2 separate regions of the Homo sapiens genome follow, and region 1 is linked to region 2. Evidence: fine-mapped expression QTL. Tissue or cell type: subcutaneous fat. Region 2 holds a variant in brackets; the other region holds the start of a gene. All regions are shown on one strand. Distances are between the middles of the regions.

What was found. PIP is the estimated chance that this variant, and not a neighbour inherited with it, causes the effect.
Region 1: it holds the start of TP53I11, and the variant in region 2 is fine-mapped to the expression of TP53I11 in subcutaneous fat (TwinsUK, PIP 0.95).

The regions. Positions count from the first base shown.
Region 1 is chr11:44,947,689-44,955,791 of GRCh38, forward strand. TP53I11 (tumor protein p53 inducible protein 11) reads right to left here and starts at 3,195. Exons shown (of 7, transcript NM_006034.5): 1 at 2,989-3,195. RefSeq lists silencers at 2,965-3,094, 3,125-3,384.
Region 2 is chr11:45,053,426-45,061,528 of GRCh38, forward strand. No RefSeq gene overlaps it. Among named protein-coding and RNA genes, the nearest start is that of LINC02685, 84 kb to the left of the region's middle. The variant G/A (reference allele first, on the strand shown) is at 5,077.

The DNA of each region.
Region 1 (8,103 bases), 110 kb before region 2:
TAGCTCATGACTTAAAAGGCTTGTGCTCCATCCTGGCTCTACCACTGATGAGCTGTATGCCTTTGGGCCAGTGACTCTGCCTCCCTGGGCCTCAGTTTCCTCATCTGTTAAATGGGGTGTAATAATGACACCAACCTCTCACCAGTGAGAAGATGCACCAAAAAAATCCAGAACAGCGCCTGTTTTGTAGTTAATGTTCAATAATAATGCTGCTCATTATTTTTAGACTAGAAGACTCTACTTCCTTGCCTCAGTTGCCCCCTTGACCAAATCTGCCTCAGAGCAGGTCCCCTTCTAGGGATCATGTGCCAGGTCAGAGTTGGGTGCTCAGAAGGGACTGGTCATAGGAAGGAAGTGGGATGAGAGAGAGCAAGGGTCACTTTGGGGCAGGAGGACGATGCTGCGCTGGCCCTGGGAGGGGTCCAGCCAGTGTAGCAGGATAAACAGTGAGACACAGGGTGCCGGGGAGGTATCGTGGACCAGGAGTCAGAACATCAGGCACCCCGCCCTGCAGCTGCCTCTCCTGGCCTGTGTGTCCTGGGGTGACTGACATACTGTCTCTGAGCCTCACTTCCCTCACCTGTGAAAGGGGAGGAATTCATCCCTTCTCAGTCACTCACTCTTCCTCAGCCCCTCACTCCCTGCTAGCTGCAGGGTAGGCACATTCCAGCCTCAGGGCCTTTGCATGGGCTGTGCTCTAGCTGTCTACACAGCTCACTCCCTCATCTCCCTCAAGGCTGTAGCTCAAAAGTTACCTCCTCAGGGAGACCTCCCTGACACCCTATTTAAAATGACAACCCGGTCCCTGGCCTCAATACCCCCAACACAACTTTTCCCCTTCACCTCTCAGTACACTATATAATTTGCTTATTGTTTTTATTAGGGAATTGCCTCCCCCTGCCCCCTGCTTTTAAGCATCAGCTCCATGAGGACAAAAATTTTTATTTTGTCCACAGCTGTCTCCCCAGTGCCTGAAACTGTCCCTGGCACTTTGCTCCATAAGCCATTTTTGGTGTAATGCTCACAAACATTTTGTTCAATAAGCAAAAGTAAAGAACAGCCCCAAACTGTGTGACTATGGGGCATTCCTGTTAAATCCAGCCCCCTCCTCCCCCATACCCCAAGAGGGGCAGGCCCTTCTTCCCACAGAGGTGGGGCTATCAAAAGAAATTGGGAGGCTGGGTGTGAGCTGGAGAAGCCACAAGGGGCCTGGAGGCAGAGCTGTGCAGAAAATAGGTCGCAGTCCTAGAACTGGCAGGTCATGACAGCTGGACATGGGTGAAGGGGCTTTCGGCCTTAGCCCTCCACTCCAAATTTGGAAGCACGGAGGAAGTTGACGACATGTGACTGGGAAAGAAGCGGCCATGGCAGGGGCCTCCTGGGATGGTGGGGACAGAGGGGGCCTCAGGAACAAGACGACCCATTTTACAGATGGGACAACAGAAGCCTGGAGAATAGTCTTATTTCCTAACAACCCAACAAGAAAAATCTTTTCTCTCCTTTCTCGAAGTCTGGGGCTGAGGCTAAGGAGCGGACAGTGCCCCCTCCTGGCTCTGCAACAAAACGACCCCCGCGTCCCTGGGATCTGCGGGCCGCAGATCCTGGTCCCCTCTCCACAGGCCGTCAGGGGTGGAGGTCCAAGGGACCACATAGTTGGGGTGGGCAGCCCCGGTGACTTCTCCCCGCAGGCCCGCCCCGTCAAGAAGTTTGTTTGAAAGAAACCAATCAGGAAGTGCAGGGTAGTGGGGCGGTGAGGGGGCCTTGGCCAGCCGCTCTGGGCTTTGGAGGAGCCTGGGGGTTCTTGGCCTCCGCGCTGCTCTTGCCCCAGCCTCCATCTCTCCGGCGGAGAAACCCACTCCCCCCGGGCTCCAGGAAGAGGCGGAAGCCCGAGACTGGGTCAGGGCGAAGGAAGGTAGAGCGAGGGGACCCAAGGCGAGCGCCCCGCCCCGCCCCGCCCAGCGGGGCGCGCCGGGGTGGGCGCGGCGTTCTGGCCCTTCCTCCACACAGCCTCCCCCGGGTAGGTGCGAGTGTTCTGCCCACGGCAGGGGCCCTAACCCACCCAGCGCCCGGCCAGTGGCCCCACACTGTACCCTTCCTGCAGATCGCGCGACTTTGGGGAGAGTGGGGGGCGTCTCCACCTGTGCGTCCCCTACCCACCCCCTAACTGGGCTAAGGCGCGGCCTGGGTTTCTGCCCGCCCCTTTCCAGCCTGGGGACGGGGGACTCTCTCAGCCTCGCCCCTCCCCCTGCAATCTGTCCCTGATGTCCCCGCTCCAGACACTCACCCACTTTCTGAGACCCAGGCCTCAGCGCCGGTGTCCCCCGGCGGTGAGCTCCGAGCCGTTAGGCGGCCCCGGGTTCTCCGGCCCAGGGCCCCTGCCCCCAGGCCCCCACCCCAGAAGGTCGGGCCAGACTTGTGGGCAGCGGGAACTCCGCCACCACCTCCGTCCGCGGCCCTGCGGGGGCAAAGACTGGGGGAACTCGCAAGTTTGCGCCGCGCACTCCTCCTGCCGGGAACAATGGCGGGAGGGGGAGGGGACAGAGAACCGAGCGCGGGGGACCGAGTCAGACCCCGGGGAGACAGAAACTGCTTTCGCTCCGTTTCTCTCCTGCTCTGAAGCAGAAAGCTCGAGCCCGAGAGGCAGTGGCCGAGGACGAAATAAGCAGTCCAGGAGGAGGGCGACCGCGGAGCCGGGGGAGAGGGGAAACCGAGTCAGAGGGAGGGGCGGCGAGGGGAGAGCGCGCAGGGGAGACGGAAGGGGCTGCGGGACGGCGCCTTGGGGAGCTGGGGAGGCGACCCCCTGGGGTCCCAGCGGGCTCAGCGGGTGCCGAGATGTCCCGGGGCGCCCGGTTAGCGCGCGCGGGGTCCCGGCCGCCCCTCTGCGGTCCCGTCGGCCGCAGGAGCCCCGCTGGGTTGCGCTGCGCAGGCGGCGGGCGGCGGGAGGGGAAAGTCCGCGGCTCGGAAGCGGCGGCGGGGAGCAGAACTTACGGGCCTCGCGCGTGCCGGCGCTGGGCTACGTGGAGCTGATGCCAGGCGGAGGCTCCGGGCTCGGACGCCTCACATCGCGCCGCCCGTGCCGGGCCGGGCAGTGCAGGGCAGGGCAGGGCAGGGCAGGGCAGGACAGGGCAGGGCAGGGCAGGGCCGGGCCGGCTGGACTGCGCGCGGCGCCCTGCGCGGCCGGGGCTTACCGAGTCTGGCGGCCCGCGCTGGTCCCTCCTCTCGGTTCCGCGCACAAGCCAATGGCGCGCCGTCCCCTCCCACGCGCCGGGCTGCCTCGCCCCCAGGGTGGCCGCCGGGGCGGGCGGGATGGGGGTTGGCGGGGAAACCAGGCTCCCGGCTCCCCCGCGAGGCTCTCCCGGGGGCCGCCTGCAGGGGGCGCACGCGCGCCCGAGAGAAGGCGCCGGGGGAGGAAGCCGCGCGGGGAGACCCTGGCGTGGCCCGCGCCGCCCAGGATGACTTTCCTGGCAAGTTCTGCAGACGGTGCCCCTTTCTTGGGACGATCAACGTAGATGGGCAAACCACACCATCTTAAATAGCCTTGCGGTGTCTCCCGGGCCCAGGCCGGTGCCTGAAATGGAAGGGACTGCTTTGGCTGGCGGTGATACCCAAGTGTGTAATAACACAGTCACGACAATAGTCACCGTTTGCTGCGCACTCTCTGATGCCAGACACCATATGCTAAAGGAGTTACAAGTATTAACTCATTTGATTTTCACAGCAACCCATAAGGGCGCTGTGCTTAGTCCCATTTTACAGGCCATGGTCGTTAAAGTTTGAGTTCACTCAGCCTTCAGGCTTCCAGCCTAGGCCCACCCTTCTCTCTCCCTGCTTGGTGTGACTTGGCCAAATAACATGACCCCACTGTCACTACGGCCACCTTCTTCATACTCCACCCTAAAATCCAGCCTCAGAGATGCTGCTGTCAGTTGCGCTGTCAGGAGGCTAGGATCTTATCTGGGGCTCTAGGACGCTTGTTGGCGCTACAGTTGTCAAACCTTTTGTCTCTACACATCCTATGGGGGGCTGGGGTGAGGATGAGGGTTGGGGGTCATGGAGGCTCTCTGGTGGCGTGTCAACCTGAGAGAACCAGGCTCCTACAGACAAGGCCCCACCCCCAAATTCTGGGCTCCTTCAACCCCTTATGGTGGGAAAATAATGTGCTCTCTCCCACCCCAACCCCCACCACCCTGTGCTCTCCTTAGAGAAATGCCTGGATCTCTTTCATCTGATCTGATGGTCACAGTGGGCCAGGAACCGGGGTGGGGGGCTGCGGGAAAAGGAAGGCAAGGCTGATGACATGCTCCATTTCACAAGTAAATAAGACAGAAAGAGGTGAGTGGCTGCCTCAGGCATCTAGCTAGGTGGGCATTCTGACTCCAGGTCTCGGTTCTGTCTGCACCAGTTCCTTAACGGTTAATAGAGCAGGCTCTGGAACCAGATCACCTAGGTTCAAATCCTGACTCTGCCTTTTAGTGCCTGTGTGGCCTTGGACAAAGTAAGTCACCTAGAGCAACCAATAGTAAGAACCGGCTATGGTTGCTGTAGAGATTTAGAGTTAATAGGAGCTGCTCATGTTTACTGTGCATGGACTCTGTGCCATGCAGGCTCCCACTGTCCTCACCAGAGCTGGGATTGGGCAGGAGAGTCTGTGCCCTTGGCAAGGAAGTAAACAGAACAGTCCTTGGTTCATAGTAAGTGCTCAGTGAATATAAACTGTCCTGATTACTAAGGTAGATAAACTCTGATGCCCCAGTGCCACTGACACTGCCCCCAGCCAAACACCTAGACAGTGATAGCCAATAATGAATGAATCAATCAATCAATCAAAGTATGTGACTCTAGATGAGGATTATTTTTAAGGTGTGTTGGGTGGAGCCATCTGACTCAAGGCTCTATAGTAATTTCTGCAACAACTCAGTCTCACCTCACTGCCTTTACAGAGCTGGGCCAAGCTGGGTTGATGAATTCATTTGTCACTCCCTCTTCTGCCTTTCTGGCACTCAGGGCTCTGGATTGCTGAAGGGAGGGCCCCCAGCGTCATTCATGTGCAATGTCCTCCCAGACTTGGGGACACCTGCCAGTGCTCTGCTTGGTGTAACCCTAAAGACTAGCAGCAGGGTCTGTGCTTGTAATCCCAGCCAGCCTGATCATACATCAGTGGGAGGCCTTTGTCACAATCACTCCAAGTTTTCCAACATGGAAGAGGCTGCCTTAGTTGTCATGAATGAGTGCCCTGTCACTAGCAGCATGCAAGCAGAATCCAGGGAAGGGTTGATGAGGACAGCAGAGGAAGAATTCCCACCTTAAGTGGTATTTGGAGTGGATAACCTTTGCCCTCTGGGTGTCTGTATTCTCTCAGTCTCCTTATCAACGGGGAAGCTGGGGAGGCTGGGAGCTCAGGCTGGGCCAAGGCTGCCCCACCATCCTTTGTGAACGAGGCCATCCTGACAGTGCCTCACCCTTATGCCAGGCAAGGTGCTATGTGCTGGGGCCCCAGGGGTGAACAGGACAGTGTCCCTGTCCTTGGAGAGTTCACAGCCCCCTTGTAGATGACTGCACAGATAGTCAACAGCAGCAACAGTAACCGCTCAAGATAACAGGCAAAGTGCTTGGAGGGGGACCAGGGGAGAAGCAGCTGGCTCTATCCATAACCCCCTGCATCCGCTCTCCAGAAAGCACCCATTAGAGGCTCTTATTGTCTTCCTCCCTATATACTTTTCATTTATTTATTTACTTATTTATTTATTTTGAGATGGAGTCTCGTTCTGTCGCCCAGGCTGGAGTGCAGTGGCGTGATCTCGGCTCACTGCAAGCTCCGCCTCCTGGGTCCATGCCATTCTCCTGCCTCAGCCTCCCGAGTAGCTGGGACTACAGGCACCCACGACCACACCCGGCTAATTTTTTGTATTTTTAGTAGAGTCGGGGTTTCACCATGTTAGTCAGGATAGTCTCGATCTCCTGACCTCATGATCCGCCCGCCTCGGCCTCCCAAAGTGCGGGGATTACAGGCGTGAGCCACCGCGCCCGGCCCCTATATACTTTTCTAAAGTGATGTGTCCAGTTCAGAAACATCCCTTAGGCAGCCATTCTGCCCTCAACTCTTCTGAGTTACCTGATCTTTACACTGGGCATAAAAAAAAAACTCACCTCACTGGGCTGCTGTGAGGAGTAACATTGACATTCATTAAGTGTGCCCCTAACGACAGGCAAGAATAGATGCTTGGTGCACGGTAACAATGAGGAGTCATCATTATTCTAGGTGAGAGTGAGATAAGTCGGCTAGGACCTTGGCTCTGCTCCTAAGTAGCTATACGACCCTCGCCTGCACGGATATAAAAATATCTGCCTCATAGAACTTGTGAGAGTCAAGTGAGGTGATTCGATGAAAAAGGTTTGCAAACTGGAAATGCTGATTCCTATTATTGACATTATTATTGTGATTCTTACCTTGGTGAAGTGTTCCTCTCAAGGCCCCAGGGGGGTGGGGATGGGAGTGGGGTTGGGGATGGAGCCAGGAAGCAGCCAGCGGCTGTTGCAGGGGTGGGAGGGTCACTCCTCCAGACTCCCACAGGAACCTGGGAGCAGCAGGGGCTCCATCTGCCCTGGTCGCCCTCCACAAGCAGGGGCAGCAACACCTCCTTGGTGGCCAGGTGTGAGTGAGCACTTAAGAGTGCGCCTGTGTGTCTGTGTTTGTGCCCCTGCAGGAAGGTGTGGTGGGCACAGGGATTGCCAGTGTCTGCAGCCAGAAACCACTATGGACGAGGAAGAATGGGGATGTAATTGGATTTCAAAGATGCTTGGAGTGAGACTACTGTTATCACCTGGGACTGCAGGAGAGAGGCCTGCGGAGCGGGGGTTGGGCCTAGTCTTTGGGGTTGGGGCCAGGGGAAAGGTTTCAGCACTGATGGGCACGTGTGGAGGAACATGATGTTGTCAGAGACCTGTTGTGGTTGAGCCCAGGGATTTTGGACCTGACAGATCTGGGTTCAAGTCCTGGTTATGGGACCATGGGCCAGTGATTTCACTTCTCTAGGCCTCAGTTTGCTCATCTGTAAAATGGTGATAATAACAGGGCCTACCTGGTGGGAGTTATTGGAGGTTTAGCAGAGAGGCTGCACGTGAAGCCCTTAACATGGGGCAGGCACATCGACAGTTATCAATCAGTGCCACTGGTGTTATTATGCGGCAGCCTGGGAGGAGCGGAGGGAGAGGGCCTCAGGAGTGCTGGTGCATTCTCAACTGGAACAGGGAGCTCTGGGGTGAGAGTTGTCTAGCCAGGGTTCATTGAAGCTGGCACAAAACCCAGAGAGAAGGAGCCGCCATCCCACAACACAAGGACTGAGGCAGAGAGCTGGGCTTTCACAACTGCTTCTGGTTCCCCTTCCTGGTTTCCTCTCATTTCCTCCAGAGCTTCGTTCTCTGTGAACCTGCCTGGTGAGGAGAACTCTGTTACACATAGCTTTGGGGACTGGAAGGAGCAGCTGGGAGCTCAGGAACTCCCAGGCAGGCCTCCCCAGTGCTTCCTGCCCCCACCCCTCCAGAGTGAGCACTGACCAGCCCTCCTTCCCCGACCCCACACAACTGCCAGCTGCTTCCCTCCAGTGACTCATCCCCACCACCTCTGTTGCTACACCAGGACCAGGAAATGTCAAGCAGTTTCTTATCTGTGGGAGAGAGAACTGATCAGGATGGGGGTGGAAGAAATGAGGCTCAGATCTCCCCAAAGAAAGTGTATGACAGCTAGGGGACCAGAAGACCATGGCCAGCCCTTTCCTGCTTCCTGTGGGGGAGGGCTCAAGGAGGCAGTATGAGAGTGGGATTTAGCCACTAGAACCATCCTGGATTTAGGTTCAAGGTCCTAGTCCTCTTCTAACCGGCTCTGTGGCCTTAGGCAAGTAACTCAGTGTCTCTGAGCCTCAGCGTGTTCATCTGCCAAATGGAAAGAAGAAAATCATGATGATGCATAGGGTACCTGGGGGGTTAAGTGAGATAGTACATGTGAGTCCGGAGCTCACAGTCAGTTCTCAATGAATGTTCATTGACTCAATTAATGAATGGACATGTGGAAATGGCGGTGAGCTGTGTGCATGTGGCCATCTGCAA
Region 2 (8,103 bases):
CCCCATCCTGAGGAGCCCCAGGGGCCTTTGCTGACATCCTGGCTTAGCCTCAGGGCCCATCCCTGAGCAGGGAGGCAAGGCCTTAGCATCTCAGGGGGGACAGAATTGCACTCTGGTGTCAGAGTTTTGGATTCAATCCCCGTTCTGCCCTGGTTACCTGTGGGACCTTGGGCACTTCACCTCTCTGGCCTCAGTCTCTTCTTCTGTAGCCTACTCAAGGACAGCCCTTCATTTGAGCCTTACATGCCAGCCCCTCACACCCACTCCAGGGTTTTTTCCTCTCTCCCTCCTGCATTGAATTCTTCCTCCTGCATTGAATTCTTCCTCCATCCTGGATCACCCTCCACAGCATACAAACCTGTTCTAATTGTGCCCATCTTAAAACTGGGGAATAACCAGAAAACCTTCCTCAGGTCAGCTCCCCTGACACACCGATCTTTCCCTGTGCCCTTTATAGGAAAATTCCTTGAAGAGTTGCCAGGTGGCATCTGGGAAGCAGGCGGCCTCCATTTCCTCGCCTCCTGTTCCCTCTCGAACCTACTTCAGGAGGATTTTGTCCCCACGATTCCACAAAAACACTCTCGTCAGGGTCACCAGTGGTCCATGTTGCTAAATCCACTGTCATTTCGCCGGCTTCATCTCCCTGGCTCTGATCACCAGTTGGTTGCCCCTGCAGCCCCCGCCTACTCCTGTCATGGGGACTCTACATTCCTGGTTTTCCTCTGGCCTGCTGGCTGACAGATCACCCCATCCTCTGTTGATTCCACCTCACCTGCTGGCTTCTAACGCCGAGGTCCCAGGGCTCCGTGGGCTTCTCTGCTGTCTGCACTCACATCCCCGGGGATCACAAATGCAAATACAGCTTATGCATGGGAGGATACGAGCCCAGACCTTCCCTCTGACCTACAAGCCTACTGAGATCTCCACTTCCATGACTAATGGGCACCTAACATCCAATGCCTCCACAGCCATCATCTCGGTGTTTCCCATCTCAACAAATGGAAAGAAATAGCCCCCACTTTCAGCCGCTCAGTCCAACACCTGGAGTGACTCTTGGCAACTTTCTTCCTCTGATGTCCCCTCCTGTCCCTCAGCATAGTAGACATCTGCACTTTGGGAGGCCGAGTTGGGCGGATCATGAGGTCAGGAGTTCGAGACCAGCCTGACCAACATGGTGAAACCCCGACTGTACTAAAAATACAAAAAAAAATTAGCCGGGGGTGGTGGCACACACCTGTAATCCCAGCTACTCAGGAGGCTGAGGCAGGAGAATCGCTTGAACCTGGGAGGCGGAAGTTGCAGTGAGCTGAGATTGTGCCACTGCACTCCAGCCCGGGTAACAGAGCAAGACTTTATCTCAAAAAAAAAAAAAAAAAAAAAAAAAAAAAAAATCCATTCTATTCCATTCTAATGGGCATTTCACATCAGAATGTGTCCCTAATCTGCTGACATCTCTCTTTTCCTCCCCTCCTCCTTCCAGAGCCTCCCTGCTTGTAGCTTTTCTGTCCCAAGGACCTCCTCACTACCCCAAGGTGCTCCATTGCACTCAAGGCAAATGCGCAGGTCCCTGCCCTGATCCACAGGGCCCTCCATGCTCACCTCCTGGGACCTCTGACTCATCCTCTGTTTCTCTCCCGCTCGCTCACTCTGTTCCCTCCCTATCGTCACACTGATCCCCTGGCTGCTCTTCAAACACCCCTGGAGGGCACACCCCACCTTACAGGCTCTGCAGGGGCTGTCCCTCCACTGGGCACTTCACTCCGTGTCACACAGCTCCCCGGCCTGCCATCTTCCTCCAGACCTGGGCTCCAGTCTCACTGCCTCCCGACTGCAAATTCCACCCCAACCTCGACACTCAGTAGACCCCTGCCTAGCTGGATCTCCCTCTGTGATGCATAGTTATTGCTTTTATTGCTGGTTTCCACCCTAGAATGTCAGCTCCATGAGTGCAGGGATTGTGCGTGTTGTTTCTTTTAATCATCACACCAAGAACACAGGGAGTGCTCAATAGCTGGTAAAGAACCATCAGTGAGCATGGACAAGCTGCCTCGTAGGGTTTTGGCTTAAATGATAGAGCTCAGATAAGGCGCTCAGCCTGGGGCACGTGGATGCCACATGGTAGAAGTCGGCAGTTATGTGATTGTCACTGCTGCCATTGTCATCATTTCCTTTTTCACAGATGGAGAAAGCAGGGCTCAGAGACCCAAGGCCTGGCTCAAGGTCACAGAGCATGGCCAGAGCCAATCAGACCCACCTGGACCAACTCCCTCTCCCCACTGACAGGTGGGCCACCCCTCTCCTCTAAGACCCTGTATTAGTCTGTTCTCACACAGCTATAAAGAACGATCTGAGACTGAGTAATTTATGAAGAAAAGAGGTACACCAACATGGCACATGTATACATATGTAACAAACCTGCACATTGTGCACATGTACCCTAGAACTTAAAGCATAATAAAATATATATATTATATATATATATAAAAGAAAAGAGGTTTAATTGACTCACAGTTCCACAGGCTTAACAGGACGCATGACTGGGAGGCCTCAGGAAACTTACAGTCATGGCAGAAGAAGAAAGGGAAGCAAGGACCTTCTTCCCATGGTGGCAGGCAGGAGAGAGAGAGAGTGAGGGGGGAAGTGCCACACACTTTTAAACCACCAGATCTCGTGAGAATTCACTCACTATCACGAGAACAGCATGGGGGAAATCTGCCCCCATGATCCAATCACCTCCCACCAGGTCCCACCGCCCCAACACTGGGAATTACGATTTGACATGAGATTTGGGTAGGGGCACAGAGCCAAACCATATCAGACCCCAAAACCTCAAGGCGAGATTTGAAAAGTACTAGAGCTGGGATGGAGCCCAAATATAATCTGTCTTGAGGTTTTAAGCTCTTTTTTGATGTTCACATTCCCTGGACAAAAAGCAGGTGGTAACAGCCCAACACATTAAACAGGTAAAGAGGAAAGGAGCTATTCTAGCTGAACTCTGTAAGGGTCTGTCCTGGGTCCTGGCCCACCCCAGACTTCTGTGGACCCCCAGGGCTTTGAAACCCAGACAGAAATTCCTTTCCTCTCTCCATTCTACAGAGGAGGAAACTGAACCAAGAGAGGATAAGACCCTTTCCCAGGGTACAGGGGGGAGGGTGGATCCCTGGGGGCCCCTGGGAGCCCCTCCTCCTGGCTCCCCATCCTCAGACCTCCATTTGCATAAGTTCCACATTCCTGCTCCTCCAGGCGCCTCACTTCAGCCAGCCCACTTAATTGAAGCCAATTATTTAGCACAAGAGAACAGAGAATGCATCAGCTCATGTCTTTGTCCCCCAAACAGGGCCCTGAACAAGGAGCTCCAGCTGCCTTTGTCTCCCAGAGATGCTTATTAGAGATCAGCTGAGCTCAGCCTGTGGGGGTGACACTGGGCATGCCAGGGGCACAATGGTGTGTCCAAGGCAATTTGTGAAGGACTTCTGGGGCAGGGGCCTGGCTGCAGGCACAGAGTTCTTGACATGGGATAGACAGCTTCTGGAAAGTCGGTAGGCCAGGGATGTAGGAGTCAGAGTGACTGGGAACCTCAGGACAGTCATTCTCCCTGGAAGCCCCAGTGTCCTGACCAGTAAGTTGTTGACAACAGTGGATACGTAGATACCTGTAGAATACTTAGCACGGTACCTGGAATGCAGTACCTGCTAATTGTTAGCTATTATTACCATATTCACTTGTGATGATTATTTGGTTATTATCATTAATGTACAGTGCTCTTAGCTGTGGGGCGAGGAAGATACTATGGGTAAAATCACAGACTTTGGCTTCGGATACAACCGGGCTGGTGTCCTGTTATTGCCGTTTATCATAAACATCACACCTCTCCTCCAGTTTGGAGGTGATTCCCTACCTCAATCCTATGAAGGAAAGGAAGTTACTGATATTGATGCAGGTAGAGGAAATCAGGGTAGTCTTTATGGAGGAAGTAGTATCAAAACCTGGAAGGATGGGTTCAATTTTAATAGTCAGAAATAGGGGAAGGGAAAAGCAGGGGAACAGCATGCAAAAAGCACAGAGGATGAAACTGCTGGCACAATCAGAGGCTGGCACGTGGTCCCTCTGGTGAGGTGGGGATGGAGTGAAGGGAGTCATTCAAAACTAGGAGGCCCTAACAAGCCTGGGCCCCTGAAGCCTTAAGTAGAACCACCTTCAAAGAGACCTCTCCAGCTCCCTTCTTCCTCAGTGTCAGCTGTGACAGCAGCACGTCCATGGGTGCTGGGCCCACTTCTGTATCAGGACCTTAACAGCTGCCTGAAACCCTGACTTGTTGAGACAAAGCCCTCCCTTAATCTAGGCTGGGATTTCTCCACTGCATACTATTGACATTTTCAGCAGGACAATTCTTTGCTGTGGAGGGTCTGTCCCGTGCATTTTAGGATGTTCAGCAGCATCTTTGACCTCTACCCACCAGATGCCAGTGGCACCCTTTTTCAGCTGTGAGGACCAAAAATGTCTCTAGATATTACCAAATGTCCCTGGGGGTGGGGGCACAGGAGAATCACTCCAGTTGGGAACCACTGCTCTAGGGCCTCCCTCCCTGGGCCCGGGCTCAGACCTCCTGGATCCTGAACGCAGGAATAGCATCCTCATACACTCTTAGGGAGCAGCCCTCTTCCCCACTTCCAGTTGCTGCTGGGTGATGGGGCCTCCCCAGAGAACAGGCAGCAACCTTTTCTAGGGCTGACATCATCATCTGCTATGAAATAGACCATAATTGCCTAATTGTAGCGTGCCCTTCCAAGATAGATATACCTCTCTCACCCAAGCACCCACCCTTGCCCTCAGCCATAACATGCAGGGTAAACACACACCACTCTGGGACCTGGGGCATGAATTTTGGTAATGATGATCAATCTCAGTGATTTTCCAGAAGGTTAGCAGGCCTGGGGCAGAGAGGTAACTTGGCTGTTAAACTCTGATAAATCATCCTCATCACTCCACAGGGAGAACAAAGCTTGTTTTTTCTTTGTTGTCACAGTTTTTATCATAAAGGCAGCACTATTACAGAAAGTTTAGGAAGTAGAGAAA[G/A]CAGGATCACCCATCATGCCTCTGGGACTGATTCTATTTCTGCATACTCGGCAGGGCGTAGGCCAAGTCTTCCTGTAATTACAGACAAGGGTATAGGCAATGAGGATATTTTGTTTTCTTTCCTGTTTTTATTTCAAATTCCCTATAATACCAAAAACATCTCTTTGTGTTGCTACATGAACACGATCTTCCCAAGAATGTGGCATTTACCCAAAGTGCAGCTCAGGCCAACAAGGGGACCCTCTTCCTGGGTGGGGCCCTTGAGGGTCCGTGGCCTGGTAAACATAAGGATGTGGTGTTTACCCAAAAGCGGGTCTTGGAAGTGTGGTCAGGTCCTTGGGTGGACCCTGAAATCCTGCTATTTTGTAATTACAAAAATGTAGTGCTTACCAGAAGGGGTTTTCAGAGGACCAGAAGGGTGGTCAGTTCCCTTAGGGGAGCCCTTGAATTTCTGAGGTTTCAAGATTATAAGGATGTGCTATTTGGGATCACAAGGCCCTGTGGGTTCTAAATTTAAGAATGGTGCATTTTCCTGCAGGGAGGTGGTTGGTTTCTGAGGCAAGGCCAGAAGACCCTGGGGCTGGAAAGGCCTTGGCTATCAAGTATTTCTGATCAGATACACGCCTCCTGGGGGCCTGGAGAAGGCATGTGATGTGCAGCTCACAGGGATGATGCCAAGCCCGGTGGGAGTGGCACCTGCAGGAGGCACACGCAGCCTCGTGAAGGAGGATGAGTGGTGGCTCTCCTGACCTGGGCCACGCACACAGGCTCCTGCTTCCATGGGGCTGAAGGAGTGAAGTCCAACAGGCCACTCCAGCTGTGGGTTGCTCACACACTTAGCAACAAGTCTGTATGGAACCCTACTGTGTGAGATGCTGCTCCAGACCTCAAGACCCACAGGTGAATAAATCCAACACCGACTTGCCTTAAAGACGTTACAGTCCAATGGCAACACTCGTCAAGTAATGCCATGAAGGATTGTTCCATTGGAATCCATATGAACTAGGCAGGCAACTCATCAGGGGCTCTGATGAAGAGATGGAATGATTTAGGGGTAGTAAGGGGAGCTATATGAGCAGGCGGAATTTCAAACTGAGACCTGAAGGATGAGGAGATGAGAACCGCTGGTGCAAAGCCCAGAGGTGGGACAGGCTTGGTGTGCTGGAGAAAGGATGAAGGGACCAGCACGGCTGGAAGGAGCAAGTGAGGGGAGAGAACACGGGATTCTAGCCAAGAGGGCCACAGGGACAGGCCAAGGAGGGCCTTACAGGCCACTGGGAGCAGTTTGGACTCAGTCCCGAGAGGAACCGAAAAGAAGCAGAAGGTTTCATCTTTTAGAGAGAGGAATCTTGTGCCGGGCGCAGTGGCTCATGCCACCCCAGCACTTTGGGAGGCCAAAGTGCTCCCAAATAATCCCAGCATTTTGGGAGGCCGAGGCGGGTGGATCACCAGAGGTCAGGAGTTCGAGACCTGCCTGGCCAAGATGATGAAAACCTGTCTCTACTAAAAATACAAAAAGTAGCCGGGTGTGGTGGCACACGCCTGTAATCCCAGCTACTCGGGAGGTTGAGGCAAGAGAATTGCTTGAATCTGGGAGGCAGAGGAAGTTGCAGTGAGCCGAGATTATGCTACTGTACTCCAGCCTGGGCGACAAAGCAAGATCTTGGGAAAAAAAAAAAAAGAAAAGAAAGAGAGAGACAAAGAAAGAAAGAAAGGAGGGAGGGAGGGAGGGAGGGAGGAAGGAAGGAAAGAAAGAAAGAAGGAAAGAAAGAAAGAAAGAAATGAAAGAAAGAAAGAAAGAAAGGCAGAAAGAAAGAAAGAAAGAAAGAAAGAAAGAAAGAGAGAAAAGAAAGCAAGGAAGCAAGCAAGCAAGTCTCTGGCTGTGAAGAGGAAAGTGAGTGATGGGGTCAGGGGTCAATGGTGGAAAGGAGGAAGGAAGGCAGGCAACCCCTGGCTTCCTCCAAGTAAGAGAGGACAGTGGCTGGAGGAAGGATGGAGCAGTGGGCTGGGGAAGATATATCAATCCTCATTATTAGTAGGTTCCATATTTGCAAACTCACCTGCTCATCACATTTTATTTGTAACCCCAAAATCAATGCTCGTGGCACTTTCCTGGTCATTTGCAGACATGCAGACATGTCCAGGACGGTGAAAAATCTGTGAGCAACATGCACATTTCCAGATGAAGCCAAACAAGGTGACACTCTGCCTTCTTGGTTCAGTTTCGCATACTGTAAACAAGGGTTCTTTATGCTGTACAGTCACATGCCACTTAACAACAGGGATACAACGTTCTGAGAAACGTTAGGTGACTTCCTCGTTATGTGAATGCTATAGTGTGTACTTACACAAACCTAGATGGTACAGCCTACTACACACCTAGGCTATATGATATTGCCTGTTGCTCCCAGGCTGCAAACCTGTACAGCAGGTTACTGTTCTGAATACTGCAGGCAATTGGCATGCAATTGTAAGTATTTGTGTGTCTAAATATGGAAAAGGTACAGTAAAAATATGATCTAGGCCAGGGCAGTGGCTCATGTCTCTAATCCCAGCACTTTGGGAGGCCAAGGCGGGCGAAACACCTAAGGTCGGGAGTTCGAGACCAGCCTGACCAACATGGAGAAACCCGTCTCTACTAAAACTACAAAATTAGCTGGGTGTGGTGGCTCATGCCTATAATCCCAGCTACTCGGGAGGCTGAGGCAGGAGAATAGCTTGAACTGGGGAGGCTGAGGTTGTGGTGAGCCAAGATCACACCATTGCACTCCAGCCTGGGCAACAAGAGTGAAACTCCGTCTCAAAAAAAAAAAAGATATAAAAGATAAAAAGTGGTACACCTATGTAAGGCACTTACCATGAATGGAGCTTGCAGAACTGCAGGTTGCTCTGGGTGAATCAATGAGTGAATGTGAAGACCTAGGACATTACTCTACATTACTGTAGACTTTATAAACACTTTAGGCTAGACCAAATTTATACCAAAATATTTTTCTTTCTTCAATAATAAATTAAGCTTAGCTTACT